Linked DNA regions of Homo sapiens: region 1 is linked to region 2. The links come from fine-mapping of genetic effects on gene expression. A gene starts in region 2. The other region holds a variant in brackets. All regions are shown on one strand. Distances are from middle to middle. Region 1 overlaps COL9A3 (collagen type IX alpha 3 chain). Region 2 holds the start of TCFL5 (transcription factor like 5).

Evidence for each region. PIP is the estimated chance that this variant, and not a neighbour inherited with it, causes the effect. A credible set is the group of variants that fine-mapping cannot tell apart.
Region 1: its variant is the best candidate, but not a certain one, in a credible set for the expression of TCFL5 in hippocampus (GTEx, PIP 0.78).

Annotation. Positions count from the first base shown.
Region 1 is chr20:62,837,797-62,846,041 of GRCh38, reverse strand. COL9A3 (collagen type IX alpha 3 chain) reads right to left here. Exons shown (of 32, transcript NM_001853.4): 31 at 7,281-7,358; 32 at 4,883-5,500. The coding sequence ends at 5,310. It overlaps TCFL5 (transcription factor like 5), which reads left to right. Exons shown (of 6, transcript NM_006602.4): 6 at 3,945-5,037. The coding sequence ends at 4,067. It also overlaps the pseudogene DPH3P1. Among named protein-coding and RNA genes, the nearest start is that of TCFL5, 20 kb to the left of the region's middle. The variant T/AGATGT (reference allele first, on the strand shown) is at 4,848.
Region 2 is chr20:62,856,699-62,865,096 of GRCh38, reverse strand. It overlaps TCFL5 (transcription factor like 5), which reads left to right and starts at 3,275. Exons shown (of 6, transcript NM_006602.4): 1 at 3,275-4,073; 2 at 4,789-4,972; 3 at 5,571-5,733; 4 at 7,459-7,702. The coding sequence starts at 3,427. LOC105372717 (a long non-coding RNA gene) reads right to left here and starts at 3,662. Exons shown (of 4, transcript XR_936989.4): 1 at 3,556-3,662. RefSeq lists silencers at 2,867-2,966, 3,017-3,206, 3,707-3,856 and an enhancer at 2,828-3,482.

The DNA.
Region 1 (8,245 bases), 19 kb after region 2:
ATCCACAACACGCCTACAGAACAGCAAATCACAAATGGCTGTGTCTCCACGAAGCCAGGAGCTTTGCATTTGAAGTTTCTATCTGGGCTCATTTCCAGCTGTTCAGGGTTCGGATTCCTGAAGGCTTCCTTAGCATTTAACTCATTCTTTGTTGACTGAAGGCACTGGCACTGTTTCTCCACACGCAAACTGATCTTTGTCATAAATCACTTTTATAATGAGAGAGCAGCCTGGACACATTGCCACACCTTCCCCATTCTCCAGCTCTTCCTTGGTGATGGAGAAGTTATCTCCGCATGGGCAGGGACAGAAATATGTCTCCGAGTCCTCGTCATATTGGAAGTCCTCGATTTCCACCTCGTCATGAAATACTGCCATGGTCAGCGGGGGTTGCTGAAGGGGTGACGCCCCAGCAGTCCGAGACCAGCTCCGAGGGTCTAACTTCTCCGGAGCCGGCCCAGGCTCTGACTTTCATTTAATTGTCCTGAAAGGTGAATTCTATCTTGCCAAATAGGCAAGTGTTTTTTATATGTAGGCTTTAGGTGTCAGAATATAGGAAATTATCAAAATGTGGGGTCATTTTAAATTGCATCCTAAAACCTTTTAAAATTTGGGAAGAAGCTGGGCGTCGTAGCTCACGCCTGTAATCCCAGCACTTTGGGAAGCTGAGGTGGGCAGATTACCTGAGGTCAGGAGTTCGAGACCAGCCTGGCCAATACGGTGTGACCCCCGTCTCTACTAAAAATACAAAAATTAGCCGGGCGTGGTGGTACATGCCTGTAATCCCAGCTACTCAGGAGGCTGAGGTGGGAGAATCAGTTGAACCCAGGAGGCAAAGGTTGCAGTGAGCTGAGATCGTGCCATTGCACCCCAGTCTGGGCGACAAGAGTGAAACTCCATATCCAAAAAAAAAAAAAATTGGGAAGAAAATGAGTATATTTATATGCAGGTGTAGATTCTGAGTGCACACAGTAGTTGGAAATGGCAGCTTGCTTGGTTGGAAAGTTGCTTAAAAGTGGATGGGTGGAATGTTCCAGTCACTCCAGGTGGTTCAGAAGTTAAATCCATGGCAGCATGGCGCTTGTGTCCTCCTGGACTTGAATTAAGTAGAAAGTTACTACAACTCAGCAACAAAAAGACTACACAGACTGGGAACCGTGGCTCCCGCCTGTAATCCCAGCACTCTGGGAGGCCGAGGTGGGTGGATCACCTGAGGTCAGGAGTTTGAGACCAGCCTGGCCAACATGGTGAAACCCTGTCTCTACTAAAAAAACAAAAATTAGCCGGGTGTGGTGGCAGGTGCCTGTAATCCCAGCTATTCAGGAGGCTGAGGCAGGAAAATTGCTTGAACCCCAGGAGGCAGAGGTTGCAGGGAGGTGGAGGTTGCAGTGAGCTGAGATCACGCTGTTGCACTCCAGCCTGGGTGACAGAGTGAGACTCGGTCTCAAAAAAAAAAAAACAAAAAACAAACAAAAAAAAACAGAAAAAAAATGTTGAAAGCCAGGCGTGATGGTGTGCACCTGTAGTCCCAGCTACTCGGGAGGCTGAGCCTGCAGTGAGCCGTGGATGTGCCACTGCATTCCAGCCTGAGAGAGCAAGACCCTGTCCAAAAAAAAGACAGCACAACTGAAAAATGGGCAAAGAACTTGAATAGACATTTCTCCAGAGAAGATACACAGATGGCCAATAAGCCCATGAAAGATGCGCCAAGCCGTTAGTCATTAGGGAAATACGAATCAAGACCCAATGAGATACTACTTTTACACATACTAGGATGGCTATTCAAAAACAAAAACAAAAGCAAAATAGCAAGTGTTGGCAAGGATGTGGAGACATCAGAATCCCTGTGCTTTGCCGCTGGGGGTGTGAAATGGTGCAGCCACTGTGGAAGACAGTATGACAGCTCCTCAGAAGGTTCAACATAGAATCACCAGAGAAGCATAAACCCCAAAGAGGTGAAACAGGGACCCAAATGGATGCTTTTCTATGAATATTCATGGCAGCACCTTTCACAGTGGCCAAAAGGTGGAAATGACTCAAGTGTGCTCCAGCAGAGGAATGAGTAAACAAATGTGTTACAAGCACACAACAGAATCTTACTCAGCCATGAAAAGGAATGAAATTCTGACACAGGCTACAGCATGGATGGCCCGAGGTCATTATGCTGAGTGAAATAAGCCAGTCACAACAGGGCACACCCTGCGGGATTCCGTAAACAAGGCACCTAGAGCCGTCAGATTCAGAGAGACAGAAAGTGGACTGGTACGTGCCAGGGGCTGGGGGCCGGAGCGGTGTGGAGTTAGTGTTTAATGGGTACGGAGTTTCTGTTTAGGGTGATGAAAAGGTGGTGGCGGCTGCACAGCACTGTGAGTGGACTTCACGCTGCTCCACTGTACACTTACACATGCTTAAAAGGCAAATTTTATGCTATATTTTAATACCACAATAAAAACTGTATAAACCTGGATTTAATCGTGTAGAATGCTATGTTTTAAAACCAACTTATGGAAATTTTCAAATCTGCACAGAAATAGAAAGTGAACTCCCAGGTCCCTCTAACTCAGTTTCAGGCATCAGCTTGTTTCACCTATCCCCTCGCCCTCCCACCCCCGCTGAATTATTTTAAAACAATTCCAGACATCATTTCATTCATAAATATATCTTCCGAAAGAAAAGGCCTGTTTAAAAACACAACCGCATTATCAGTCTCCTTCCTGAAAGCCTTCACTCCTTATTACCCACCTGAGTCTCCTTCCCGAATCTGAGCAGAATCTCCCGTGAGCCCACAGGTGTCTCTACGGTCAGCTCATTTGAATCAGGATCCAAACATCACATTTGGTTGATAGTTTTTAAATATATCTTAACCCGTAATAGTTCCCCCTTCCTTTCTTCCTCACCGTTCATTTGTTGAAAAGGGAATGATTTGTCCCGTAGACGTTTCCACATTCTGCCCGTGGTGGTTGGCGCCTGTCATCGGGCCGTCGCCTGTGCCCCTCTCTTCCTCTCAGTCTCCTTCGGGAGGTTGAGACTGACCCCACCATTATAATTGAGGCCTTTTGTAAAAGACAGGTGGTGTGACAGGAGCAAGCTCAGCCCACCCCCACCCTGCTGGCAGGGTCTCCCCAAGGACAGAGCCATCTCAGCGAGCAGCACCTCCACCTTGCTGGCCTTGGAACCCTGAGTGTGTGGCAGTGCAGAGGGCAAGGCAGTCGCCCTGGGGTGGGGGTAGATGCCCCTGACTTGTTAATTGTTGAAACTTTTTAAAAATTTATTTTTTTGAGACGGAGTTTCACTCTTGTTGCCCAGACTGGAGTGCAATGGCATGATCTCGGCTCACTGCAACCTCCACCTCCCAGGCTCAAGAGATTGTCCTGCCTCAGCCTCCCAAGTAGCTGGGGTCACAAGATGCTTGCCACCACGCCCAGCTAATTTTTGTATTTTTAGTAGAGATGGGGTTTCACCATGTTAATCAGGCTGGTCCTGAACTCCTGACGTCAGGTGATCCACCCACCTCGGCCTCCCAAAGTGCTGGGATTATAGGCGTGAGCCGCCACGCCCGGCCTGAAACGTTTTAATATATACACTCTACCTTCTCTCACACGCTGGGTTTACAGGTTTATTAGCTAGGGCCCATTAGCGGTTGAAACGTTCATGTCATGTATATTTTACCACAATAAAATCAATACAGTGTGGCCAGACATTCTGAGTATTGGAAAAACAAAAGTACATGTACAGTGTAACTGCTATTTGAAAAAAAAAAAGTTAAAATCTGTTTATTATATAAATCCCCTTGTGAGGTAAGACACAAGTTTGTGAATGACACCTTAAAACAGCGTATTCTAAAGTCATTTACTTAGCTCTTAATTTGAACCTTTTGCACTTTGGAAGACAGCAGTTTTCATGTCAGTTAATTCAGTATGTTAACCGTCACTTCTTCACTGCAGGAATTTGAGAGCGTATTTTGCGGTAAAACTGGCCGAAGGCTAAAGCTGACCAGACCGGACTCCTTGGTGACCTGTCCTGCACAGGGGAGTTTACAGAGCAGCCCCTCGATGGAGATCAAGTGATCGGACTGAACAGGAATCCTCGGGGGGTGAACAGCCATTCCTTCGTGACCTGTGCACGCCTTCTGCAACCCTGGAGCTCTGCTCGGCTAGTCTGACTCGAAAAGGGCGTGACTCAAGCTGACGGGACTCCAGTAGGGACTTTGAGAGCACATTTTGTAAAAATATTTATCTAGACGCAAATGCTTATCCATGAATGTCCTCTTAGACCATTTGGGGATGAAGCCATCTTAATAATTAGTAATAATTAATTAGTAATAATTAGTAAGCATTTTCTCAATGCTCTGATTCCATCATGTTTTCTTAACATGATAACTTAAAAAATTGACATCCTTTGTACTTTCTTTAATCTTAAAAAGTACACGGCTTTTTACTTATTTACCTTTTAAATATGCCCCTTTAGCAATTGGAACAAGTTAAATTGTTAACTAAAAACAGTTTGGAAATTTTATTTCATTCGTTATATCACACCCCCTTGTCATGACTCTGAGTCACGTGCTGCTGTATTGCAACGTGCAGGACCATTTTAAACCTGTGTGCTAAAAATTTTCCAGATACTTGCTTTAAAGCTACTTTTGTCCACAAATGAAATACTGTCACAGTAGACGCTTAAATGCCACGTTTTCATACCAAGAGTCATTCATTACTTCATGTGTCACAAACTGTGGTGTTTGGAATTGGGTTTTTCAATGAGTGGCTTTACTTATCAATCACAACAGGTAATAGCAATAGACGTTAGTGCAATACAAAGTCACCCTCAATAAATACTGTTAATTGGAGATG[T/AGATGT]GAGTTTGTACACAAAACATCAGACTAGACCTTTGTATGGGAGAGAATTTACTGTACATTAAATTCTTTATTTTTTGTTACTCTGTAGCCAGTCATTAATCTGAAGGTTTAATATATCATTTTATTGGGATGAGATCATAGTCTTTACACAAATGCTATGTAAACAAGTTACTGAATATTTTTCACCTCGTGGAGTTGTACACAACCTTTTATATATACACACCCTACCTTCTCTCAAATGCTGGGCTTACAGGTTTATTAGCTAGGGCCTTTTGAGGTATGCTGTCAGGCGACAGCCCGATGAGGGTGCTCGCTGGCAAGGCCCGCGCGTCCAGTCGGCGGCCGAGGGGCAGCCAGGGGCGCTCCCTCTCCTGGACGTCACCCGCCTGCCACACCCCCGCTCCTTCATGACCGTCCACTGTGCTTCGGGCGTCCTTGTCACTTGCTTCCTCACGTTGAATTTTATGAGCTTCGAGAGCCTGATTTCTCCCCGACCCCTCCTAACACGGCTCCTTGGCAGGCTGAGGTGTCGCAGATCCCCGGTGTCCCCTGGGCCCCAATGGCACCTGGAAGCCCAGGATCTCCGGGAGGCCCAGGCTCGCCGGGAGCACCGTCCTGGCCGTCCTTGCTGGTGCCGGGCACGCCTTGGGGTCCTTGGGACAGAGCAGAAAGGTGAGTTCAGCTGCAGCCCGGACTGAAAGCAGGGGGACTTGACATCCAGCTGTGGGCAAGCCCTGCTCTTCCATCTGCTCACTCTTCACTTGGGGAGAGGCCACAGCGGGTGGGGAGGCCGAGGGAACGGCACACAAAGGCTCTCCGCGGGGCTGGCGGTCGGGAGTGTCCGGGGAAGGCCAGGCGCGGCCAGCCCCAGGCAGGGGTGCAGAGCCGTCCTGAGGACACCCGCACTCTGACTTACGCGGGTTTGGTGGGGGCTGTGTGAGTAAGGAGTGGATTTGGAGTGAGCAGGGGGCCCGGAGTGGGGGGTTGTGGGGTGGCTTTGGTGAGTGATGACAGTGGAAACATGGGAGGCCTGGGTGTGAGGGAAGAGGGAGTCAGCCGCCTAAGTGGGGGGTGTCAGAGCCCTTCACTGAGATGAGGTGACAAAGTCCAGAATGGTGCGGGCATGGTGTGGGCATGGTGCGGGCATGGTGCGGCCGGGAGGCTGCTGTCCACCAGCAAGTGCAACACAGATGCTGTTCAGAGCCACAGGCGGAGAGACGTGGCTGGGGCCTGGGACCCCTGTGCGTTTGGACACCAGGTAGAGGCAGAGCTAGGTCAGCAAAGGAGAGTCCAGGAGCATGGGGCACCCAGAGAGCAGTGTGTGTGCGTGGAGGGGAGAAGGGGAGAGGGCTCCAGGGCACCCAGAGAGCAGCGTGCGTGCATGGAGGGGAGGACAGGGCTCCAGGGCACCCAGGGAGAGGTGGGGTGGGTGGAGGAGAGGAGAGGGCTCCAGGGCACCCAGGGAGAGGTGGGGTGGGTGGAGGAGAGGAGAGGGCTCCAGGGCACCCAGGGAGAGGTGGGGTGGGTGGAGGAGAGGAGAGGGCTCCAGGGCATCCAGAGAGCAGTGTGAGTGCGTGGAGGAGAGGAGAGGAGAAGGCTCCAGGGCACCCAGGCAGAGGTGGGAGCGGGTGCCTTCTCGAAGACTGTTCGGGATCCTTCTCATCTGGACACACACATCCTTGGAGTCTAAGGCCTCCTGGTTTTGAGAAGGCACCAGGCTAAGACAGGGGCGGGCAGGGGATGGCCTTTGCCAAGGATCCTGGCGCTGCCTCCCTCCGTGACAAAGCATTTATTTTTGACATTAGAAATGGAAATATTCAACGTATGCACAGGTCAATTAAGAGAAAATTCTGTTATACTTTAACTGAAATAGATACTGAGTAGCTTAAACAGAATCTAACCAAATTGACTTAGCTAAAATAGATCCAGGAGGATCTGCTTACTGATTAAACTTTTTTTTTTTTGAGATGGAGTCTCGCTCTGTCGCCAGGCTGGAAGGCAGTGGCGCCATCTTGGCTCACTGCAACCTGCAACCTCCGCCTCCCGGGTTCAAGCGATTCTCTTGTCTCAGCCTCCCAAGTATCTGGGATTACAGGCGCCCGCCACCACGCCCGGCTCATTTTTGTATTTTTAATACAGATGGGGTTTCACTGTGTTGGCCAGGCTGGTCTCAAACTGCTGACCTCAGGTTATCCGTCTGCCTCAGCCTCCCAAAGTGCTGGGATTACAGGTGTAAGCCACCGCGCCCAGCCCCGATTAAACTTTTATGTATTAAAGTGGTTATTGAGACAATTCCTAATCTTGTCTCTAAGACTGCTTTGCCAAGAGAAGAGGAAAAGAGACCCATTCATAACCCAAGCACGCCCCACATAAAGCTACAAGATGGCGGAAGAGATGTCACCCAGTGAAGCCTTGCTGGCCGTGGACTCGTACCTTGGGGCCCCTGGTCTCCTTCAGGCCCGTCCAGCCCTGCTCCTGCCGCGCCTTTGTCTCCTCTGTCACCCTGGTTTCCTGTCACGAGGTGTGGACACAGACATATGGTTAGAGTATCTGTTGCAGCCACACCACAGCGGTGTCTGATCAACCTTTGTAACAAACAGGGTGCCAGCTTTTCACTGAAGTGGAAACATTTAGAAAAGTACAGATGTCACACGCGTAGGGCTTGACGGGGTCCGACGAGAGGGACCCACCTGTACACAGTCTTAGACTGCAGGACGGCTGCAGGTGGACGACGCACCGCATAGGTGACAGTGGTCCCTTAAGATTATCATACCCAATTTTTACCATTCCTTTCCCGTGTTTGGATGTATTTAACACAGATACCCACCACCAGGTTAGAACCGCCCACAAGACCCAGCCCAGTAACAGGCTGTGCAGGTCTGCAGCCATAAACCCCAGGCTCTGGCACACGGCCCAGGGGTGCAGGAGGCCGGGCTTGCGTAAGTGAACTCAGATGTTCCACAGTGAAACCGCCCAGTGGCACAGCCGTCAGAACCTATGCCTGCTGCTGAGCCGTGCACGGCTGAACCACCTCCCTGACCTCTGGCAGCCAATTTAAATGGGATTTTAGTTTTGTTCAAAATATTTATGCCTATTAAGCAGTTGAGTATTTATTAATATTTTGTAATCATGTTTTAAATGATTTTCCACCCATGGTTCACCTAAGGGCATTTTCACATCCCTCTAATTGCGTCATTCAAATCTTACATCTGTGTTTTGCCTGGCTAATTTTGTATTTTTAGTAGAGGCGGGGTTTCACCATGTTGACCAGGCTGGTCTTGAACTCCTGACTTCCAGTAATCCACCTGCCTCGTCCTCCCAACGTGCTGGGATTACAGGCATGAGCCACCGCACCCGGCCATTCCTCACATTTTTTTTTTCTTTTATGGAGACGGAGT
Region 2 (8,398 bases):
CTGCCATGGGTACCAAAATCCACGAATGTTCAAGTCCCTTATGCAAAATGTCATAGTGTTTCCATATAACCTATGCACATTCTTCCATACACTTTAAATCATCTGTAGCGGCGAGCGTGATGACTCACACCTGTAATCTCTGTAATTTGGTAGGCTGAGGTGGGAGGATCACTTGAGGCCAGGAGTTCAAGACCAGCCTGGGCAACATAGTAAGATACCATCTCTACAAAAAATAAAATAAAATAAAAATTAGCAGGGCATGGTGGTGTGTGCCTGTGGTCCCAGCTACTCGGCAGAGTCATGCAGGAGGATTGGTTGAGCTCAGGAGGTCGAGGCTGCAGTGAGCTATAACCGTATTATCCTACTCCAGCCTGGGAGACAGAGCGAGACCCTGTTTCTAAAATATATACATATCGAGATTACTTATAATACCTCATGCGATGTACATGCTAAATGAATACTTGTTATACCATATTGTTTAAGGAATAATGACAAGGAAGAGCAGTCTGTGCATTTCGGTGCAAGTAATTTTTTTCTGAGTATTTTTGATCCTTGGTTGAATCCACAGACGCAGAGCCTGTGAATACAGACGCCTGACACTATCAGTCAGCTTCTCCCTTGCCCTCAGCACTTCAAAGGTGTGATTCCACTCTGTTCTGACTTGCATTATTCCTGAAGAAATGTCTGCAATCACTGCAATCTTTTCATTTATTTTTTTAGAAGGAGTCTCTCGCTCTGTCACTAGGCTGGAGGGCAGTGGCGTGATCTTGGCTCACTGCAACCTCCACCTCCCAGGTTCAAGCGGTTCTCGTGCCTCAGCCTCCTGAGTTACCTGGGATTACAGGCCTGTGCCACCACACCCAGCTATTTTTTTTTATTTTTAGTAGAGATGGGATTTCACCATGTTTACCAGGATGGACTCGATCTCCTGACCTTGTGATCCGCCCGCCTCAGCCTCCCAAAGTGCTGGGATTACAGGCGTGAGCCACCGCGCCTGGCCTGTAATCATTCTTATCTTTGTTCCTCTGTACACAATGTCTTGTGTGTGTGTGTGTGTGTGTGTACAGCTGCTTTTAAGATTTTTCACTGATTTAAAGCAATTTGAGGCCAGGCACGGTGGCTTATGCCTGTAATCCCAGCATTCGGGAGACCAAGGTGGGCAGATCACCTGAAGTCAGGAGTTCAAGACCAGCCTGACCAACATGGCAAAATCCCGTCTCTACTAAAAATACAAAAAATTGGCCAGGCATGGTGGCACATGCCTATAATCCCAGCTATTCAGGAGGCTGAGGCAGGAGAATCACTTGAATCCAGGAGGCAGAGGTTGTGCTGAGTCAAGATCGTGCCATTGCACTCCAGCCTGGGAGACAGAGCAAGACTCCATCTCAAAAAATAAAAAAATAAATAAATAAAGCAATTTGCTTTCCATCTTGGTGTAGTTTCCTTCATGTTTCTTGAGTTTGAGGTATGTTAAACTTCTTGGGTCTGTAGGTTTGTAGTTTTAAAAAAACTTTTCAATCATTATTTTTTTTTGTTGTTTTGTTTTTGTTTTTTGAGACAGCGTCTTGCTCTGTCTCCCAGGCTGGAGTGCAGTGGTGCAATCTCTACTCACTGAAACCTCCACCTCCCGGGTTCCAGCGATTCTTCTGCCTCAGCTTCCTGAGTAGCTGGGATTACAGGCACATGCCACCACACCTGGCTAATTTTTTATATTTTTAGTAGACACGAGATTTCATCATGTTGGCCAAGCTGATCTCGAACTCCTGACCTCAAGGGATCTGCCCGCCTCGGCCTCCCAAAGTGCTGGGATTACAGGCGTGAGCCACCTCACCTGGCAATCATTACTTCTTAAAATGTCTTTCTCCCCATCCTTCCACCCCCAGGGGACTTCAAATCACACTGCTTGAAGCGGCCCCACAGCTCACTGATGCTCTGCTCACTCTCTTAGCCTTCCCTCTCTGTTTTACGTTAGACGACTTCTGTTGCCATGTCCTTGAGAGTTTTAAGTCCTTGCTTTCCTCCTTGGTAGTGTTTTCTGAAACCTGATGTTTTGCCCAAAACTGATATATTATTTTCATGTATACATGTGTGAGTTTAGATTTGCATGGCTGAGCTTTCATAGCCCATCGTTGAATCATTGTAATATATTGGTCTGTGTCTAAACTGTGATGAAATGAGCGAAAGATTCAGACCCGGCTTAGAAGACGATGTGCAAGTCACAGGCCTTTAAGTGTCCTAATGCCTAGACAGAGAACAGACAACCACTGAGTGAGATGGGAATGTGGGTGAGAGGTTAAGTACAGGAATTATTTCAAGATTGCAAAAATAAGTCTCTTAAAGACCACATATTGCATAGTTCCCTTAACAGGGAAGGCCCAGCCTAGGCAAACTCCTGGACACAGAAGATTAGTGGCTGCAGGCGGGGGAGGGGCAGTGTGCTGACTGCTACAGGAGACCGGTGGTGAATGCAGCGGTGGAGGCGGGCCCAGCGCTGGGAATGTACCACCACCGTCGCGCTGTGCATTTTTTTTTTTTTTTTGAGATGAAGTCTGGCTCTGTTGCCCAGGCTGGAGTGCAGTGGCAAGATCTCGACTCACTGCAACCTCCGCCTCCCGGGTTCAAGCGATTCTCCTGCCTCAGCCTCCCGAGTAGCTGGGATTACAGGCACGCACTACCACGTCCAGCTAATTTTTGTATTTTTAGTAGAGACGGGGTTTCACCATGTTGGCCAGGCTGGTCTCGATCTCCTGACCTCCTGATCCACCTGCCTCGGCCTCCCAAAGTACTGGGATTACAGGCATGAGCCACAGAACCCGGCCATGCGCTGCGCATTTTACGCGGATGAAGCGGATGGCCTGGGCACTGTGGACTGTGGGTCCAGGGAGCTGTTTTGACAACGTCTTCATTCCTGCCGCTGTAATGGGGCGCACGTGCACGCACGGACGTGGCTTCTCCCCAGGGTGTCACCGCGTAGGTATCACGCTGATTCCAGCGCAGCCGCCCTCGCCGGGCCTCAGCGGGGAGTGGCCGGGCAGCAGGGGCGTGGCTGGGAACCGGGCGTGGCCTGAGCTGGGGGCGTGGCCTAGCTGTGGGGGCGTGGCTGGGCCGTGGGGGCGGGCCCTCCGCGCAAGCATCCGCCGACGTGGGGCGGGGCCGGGCGTGCGGGCGGTTGGGCGGGGGCGGGGCCGGCGGCGGCGGGTAACGGAGGGGGCGGGGCTGGCGCAGGGGTGGGGTTGCCGTTGCGGGGCGGGGCGGCGCAGGCGCTGTGCGCGGCACTCAGCGGTTTTCCCTCCCCCAACGGCGCGCCGGCTGTGGCCGGCGCAGAGTAGTGCTCGGGCCGGGGGTCGCCTCCCGCCTCCCGCCTCCCGCCTCCCGCCGCCCGCCGCCCGCGTCGCCCTCGCCGCCGTTGGGCCGCGCCGCGCCGCCATGTCGGGCCCCGGACCGCGGGAGCCGCCGCCGGAGGCAGGCGCGGCAGGCGGCGAGGCGGCCGTCGAGGGCGCGGGCGGCGGGGACGCGGCGCTGGGCGAGCCGGGGCTGAGCTTCACGACCACCGACCTGAGCCTGGTGGAGATGACGGAGGTGGAGTACACGCAGCTGCAGCACATCCTCTGCTCGCACATGGAGGCGGCGGCTGACGGCGAGCTCGAGACGCGCCTCAACTCGGCGCTGCTGGCGGCGGCGGGCCCGGGCGCAGGCGCGGGCGGCTTCGCGGCGGGCGGTCAGGGGGGCGCGGCGCCCGTGTACCCCGTGCTGTGCCCGTCCGCGCTGGCGGCCGACGCGCCCTGCCTGGGCCACATCGACTTCCAGGAGCTGCGCATGATGCTGCTAAGCGAGGCGGGCGCGGCGGAGAAGACGTCGGGCGGCGGGGACGGAGCGAGGGCCCGGGCCGACGGCGCCGCCAAGGAGGGCGCGGGCGCGGCTGCGGCTGCGGCTGGACCCGACGGCGCGCCCGAGGCCCGGGCCAAGCCGGCCGTGCGCGTCCGCCTGGAGGACCGCTTCAACAGCATCCCCGCCGAGCCGCCGCCCGCGCCGCGCGGCCCCGAGCCCCCCGAGCCGGGCGGGGCGCTCAACAAGTGCGTGCCCGGCGGCCGGGGGCTGGCGGGGCCCGGGTGGAGGCCGAGGCCGGGGCCGGGGCCGGGGCGGAGGCAAAGGGGGCCCTCGCTGTGCACGCCCCCAGCCTGCCCTCCCGGCGGCACAGGGCGCGGACCTCACCGGGTCTGGGGCCGCCCCGAAAGGCTGTGTGCGCTGTGCGGGCCCCGGGGAGCAGGTACTTCCAGAAACTAAACACCCCCTCCCTCAGTGGCCCCGCCTGGAGTGGGGCCGAGCGCGCAGAATTCCTGGGAACCATGTGCTCCGGGTGGCACTCTTGGATGTCAGGGAAGCCTAGGAAGGCCCGACGGGGGTTTGCAGGCTTTGAGCTCTAAAATGAGGCTCCAGCCTGCAGCCGCCCCCTTGGCGACCCTCAGGGATGGCTGTGGAAGGGGCTGCGTCCGCAGTTTTCTGCTCATCCCAGCCTGTAGTTGCCCATCGTGGTCACACTGGAGGATGGCAAAAGTGAGATTGGTGTCAGGATGTGATGAGAGCAGGGAGGTGGCGCAGTTTTGCTTTTCCTCCATAGGAAGAGGAGGACTTCCACAGCAGCGATAGTTGCTAATTGTTGTGTAGAGATTTCCAGGATGAGAGTTGGGTTGCTGTCTGGAAAAACTAGCCAGAGCCATGGGAGTGGGATGGTGGATGCTTGTCTGCCACGTATTGCTGACACTTCTGGGCTTTCTTTTGTCTTGGCAGTTTGGTAACTCTCATTCGACATCCATCTGAACTAATGAATGTTCCTCTTCAGCAACAAAACAAATGTACAGCATTAGTGAAAAATAAAACTGCGGCTACAACTACTGCTTTGCAATTTACATACCCACTGTTTACTACAAATGCTTGCTCTACTAGTGGAAATTCTAATCTTTCACAGACACAGGTAGGGAACATGATTTGTGAAGCTTTGCTCTTTTGTATTAAATGGGTAAATTTTAACTTATTTTGGTTAGGTCCCAAGTACTTTTTTTTCCCTTCAGTGAGCTTAATAACCTTTTAAGCCGGGCGCCAAGGCCGACACCTGTAATCCCAGCACTTTGGGAGGCCGAGGTGGGTGGGTCATTTGAGTTCAGGAGTTCAAGACTAGCCTGGCCAACATGGTGAAACCCCGTACGAAAATTAACCAGGTGGTAGTGGCGGACACCTGTAATCCCAGCTGCTCAGGAGGCTGAGGCGGGAGAATCGCTTGAGCCTGGGAGGTGGAGGTTGTGGTGGGCTGACATCGCGACCCTGCACTCCAGTCTGGGCGACAGAGTGAGAGCCTGTCTCAAAAAAAAAAACAAAAAAACAAAAACAAAAAAATACCTGTGAAAGTTGAGTGTTTATGTGGTATGCGAATATTTTTAAATCTTCAGTGCAACTAAAGTTCTTCAAATTACGTGTTAGTAGTTTTGATGTTTGTTAAGTGCATTTCATTTGTGCAGTAAAGAGGAGAGTAAGCCACATATTGATAAAATTCCTGTTGCTTCATTTTTTTCCAGAGTTCTAGTAACTCATGTTCTGTACTTGAAGCTGCCAAGCACCAGGATATTGGATTGCCTAGAGCATTTTCTTTCTGTTATCAGCAAGAAATTGAATCCACTAAACAGACGTTAGGTAGTAGAAACAAAGTTTTGCCTGAGCAAGTTTGGATTAAAGTGGGAGGTAAGCGATGAAGCAGCAGGTAGTGGGAGCTTTCTTCTGACTGAGCCCTGTGGCTGATGGCATTTTGGCCTTGGGGGGCAGGGGAGACAGATGGTTTGTACACATGTGAAACAGTCTTGGAGGTGTCTGTGTATCTCAGGGGTCTGTCCACCCGCTTCCCTGTCTTTTCGCTTTAAACATTATTCTGATTCTCAAACATAATTAATCTTGGTGTGAGAACGTTGCGTTTGAGGGCTTTTTCTTAACAGTAAAGTGATAGACTTACATAAATTTTCAGTTATTTTCAAGTTACTGAAAGTACTTTATAGTTTTTTATTTTCCTTATGTTATACTCGATGAGTGAGGCAGTCATCTAACATCTGCCGAAAGCCTTTGGATAGGTGGCTGCTAATAGGAGGACCCTATTAGGGCTGCCAGGGAGAGGCTGTAAGGTGATTCGGAAAGTTTGGAAATAAAGTCACTGCTGAAGGCACTGCTGCGCTAACCTGCATAGTCCCTTCCTCCCTGGGAAACACCTGCGTAGCCCCTTCCTCCCTGGGAAACACCTGCGTAGCCCCTTCCTCCCTGGGAAACACCTGCGTAGCCCCTTCCTCCCTGGGAAACACCTGCGTAGCCCCTTCCTCCCTGGGAAACACCTGCGTAGCCCCTTCCTCCCTGGGAAACACCTGCGTAGCCCCTTCCTCCCTGGGAAACACCTGCATAGCCCCTTCCTCCCTGGGAAACACCTGCGTAGCCCCTTCCTCCCTGGGAAACTGATTTGTGAAGTGACCCGAAAAAAGAACACTCCTTACACTTAGCTTTCCAAGAGTTGGTGAAGACAAGATGGGGAGGAAGAGCTACCGCCTTCTCCCATGTCAGTCCTTCCTTTTCCTCCCTATAAAATTTTATGCCAAAGTATATGTTCACATTTGTAAGATACAAAGATGAGTATTAAAGCAGCCTCTGTGCCGACTACTCAGGTTAAGGAATAAAATATCACCAAAACGACCGAATTCCTCTCTCTCCTGCTGAAAGCTTCATCATCCTTCTGAAATGGGTGCTTTGTGTGGCATACGCGTGCACATGAGCACGCCTGCCAGTCACGTGCCTGTGGTCCTTTGATGGATACAGTTCCACTGACGCACACGTGGCATAGCCTGTCACGCAGCAGAAAAGCTCGGACGCTACTTCTTCCTGCTTTGGGGAGGAGAGCCACTTCTGCGGCGAGGGCACACACACACGCTGCTGCAGTTTTGTTCTGAGCATTGCAGTAAAAATACTGTCATATTAGAATAATTGTTTTTTTTTCTTGTTCTTAGAATAATTGTATATAAAGAAAATATTTTTGGGAGGAAATATGTCCAGGTGGTTTGTTGTTGTTGTTTTTTTTTTTCCATTCTGACCTTTAGAAAAAGTAAACAACTTCTTGTTTTCTGTATTCATAGATAACACCTGTTAATTAAAAAGAGGGGCTTTGGATGAGGTCATATTGGTTGCATAGCACTTGGAAAACGTATTTAGTGTGATGATTGATTCTTGTTCAGTTTCGTTGTATAAAATAGGCTTGGGCTTCATGGTCCCTGCTGATGCTGAAAAACTGCATTAGTACATCTCTTTGTGTTTCGGTTCTCTGTGCTGCTTACCCAATAATGTTTATATCTTGGATTGAAAAGGCCAAAACTGTATTCAGCATTAATTGAGATAAGAATACAAAATTAAAAACCACTTTTTTCTTCTTTCGCAAAGAAGCAGCGCTATGCAAACAAGCACTGAAGAGGAATCGGAGTAGAATGCGTCAGTTGGACACAAATGTAGAGCGAAGAGCCCTTGGAGAGATTCAGAATGTGGGCGAAGGTGCCACCGCCACACAAGGCGCTTGGCAGTCCTCGGAGTCCTCACAGGCAAACCTGGGGGAGCAGGCCCAGAGTGGGCCCCAGGGAGGAAGGTCTCAACGTAGGGAGAGGCATAACCGAATGGAAAGAGATAGAAGGTAATACGTGTGACTGCTTGTCAGGCTGACTCATATATGATTACCTTAGTCATACATGGTTATCACAGATGAGTGATCCTTAGCCGTTTCTGCGTTCAGAGGGAATAAAGCAGGTAGGAGCATCGTTAGCTTTCCCAGATGGATCAAGGATCCCCCAGACTATGCCCAGGCTCGCTGGCTCACTAGGAGGACTCCCGGGACTCCGCATGCAGTCACTCTCAGGCTGTGACTTACTATGGAGAAAGGATGCCAGGTGCGATCAGCAAAGGCGCGTGGGGAGAAGGCAGGAGCTGAGGTGCAAGCTTCTAAGAGCGCGCCCTGTGGAGTCAGGCAGGTTGCCCCTCATGCCCCCAGCCATGTGGTCTGAAAACGTGGGTGAGGTGTTGCCAACCAGGAAAGCTCGCTAGAGACCAGGGGCGTGTCACGTAGGCACTGCCCCCATGCATGCAACCACAGTCCAGTCTCCCAGAAGGAAAGCAGTTGTTCAGTGTCAGCCATATCGTTTGCACAGTGTAGGTTCTGGGGGCACTCTTAACTCCCTGAATCTAGGTTTGCAGACTCCACTAAGGGCCAGCCCTGACTGCAGGCCTTTCTGAGGAGAGTGGTCAGGCTGTTTTGGTAACTGCTGCTTACCAGCCAGCTTGAGTTCAGCAAGTTTTGCCTGGTTCTTTTTTTTTTTTTTTTTTTTTGAGACGG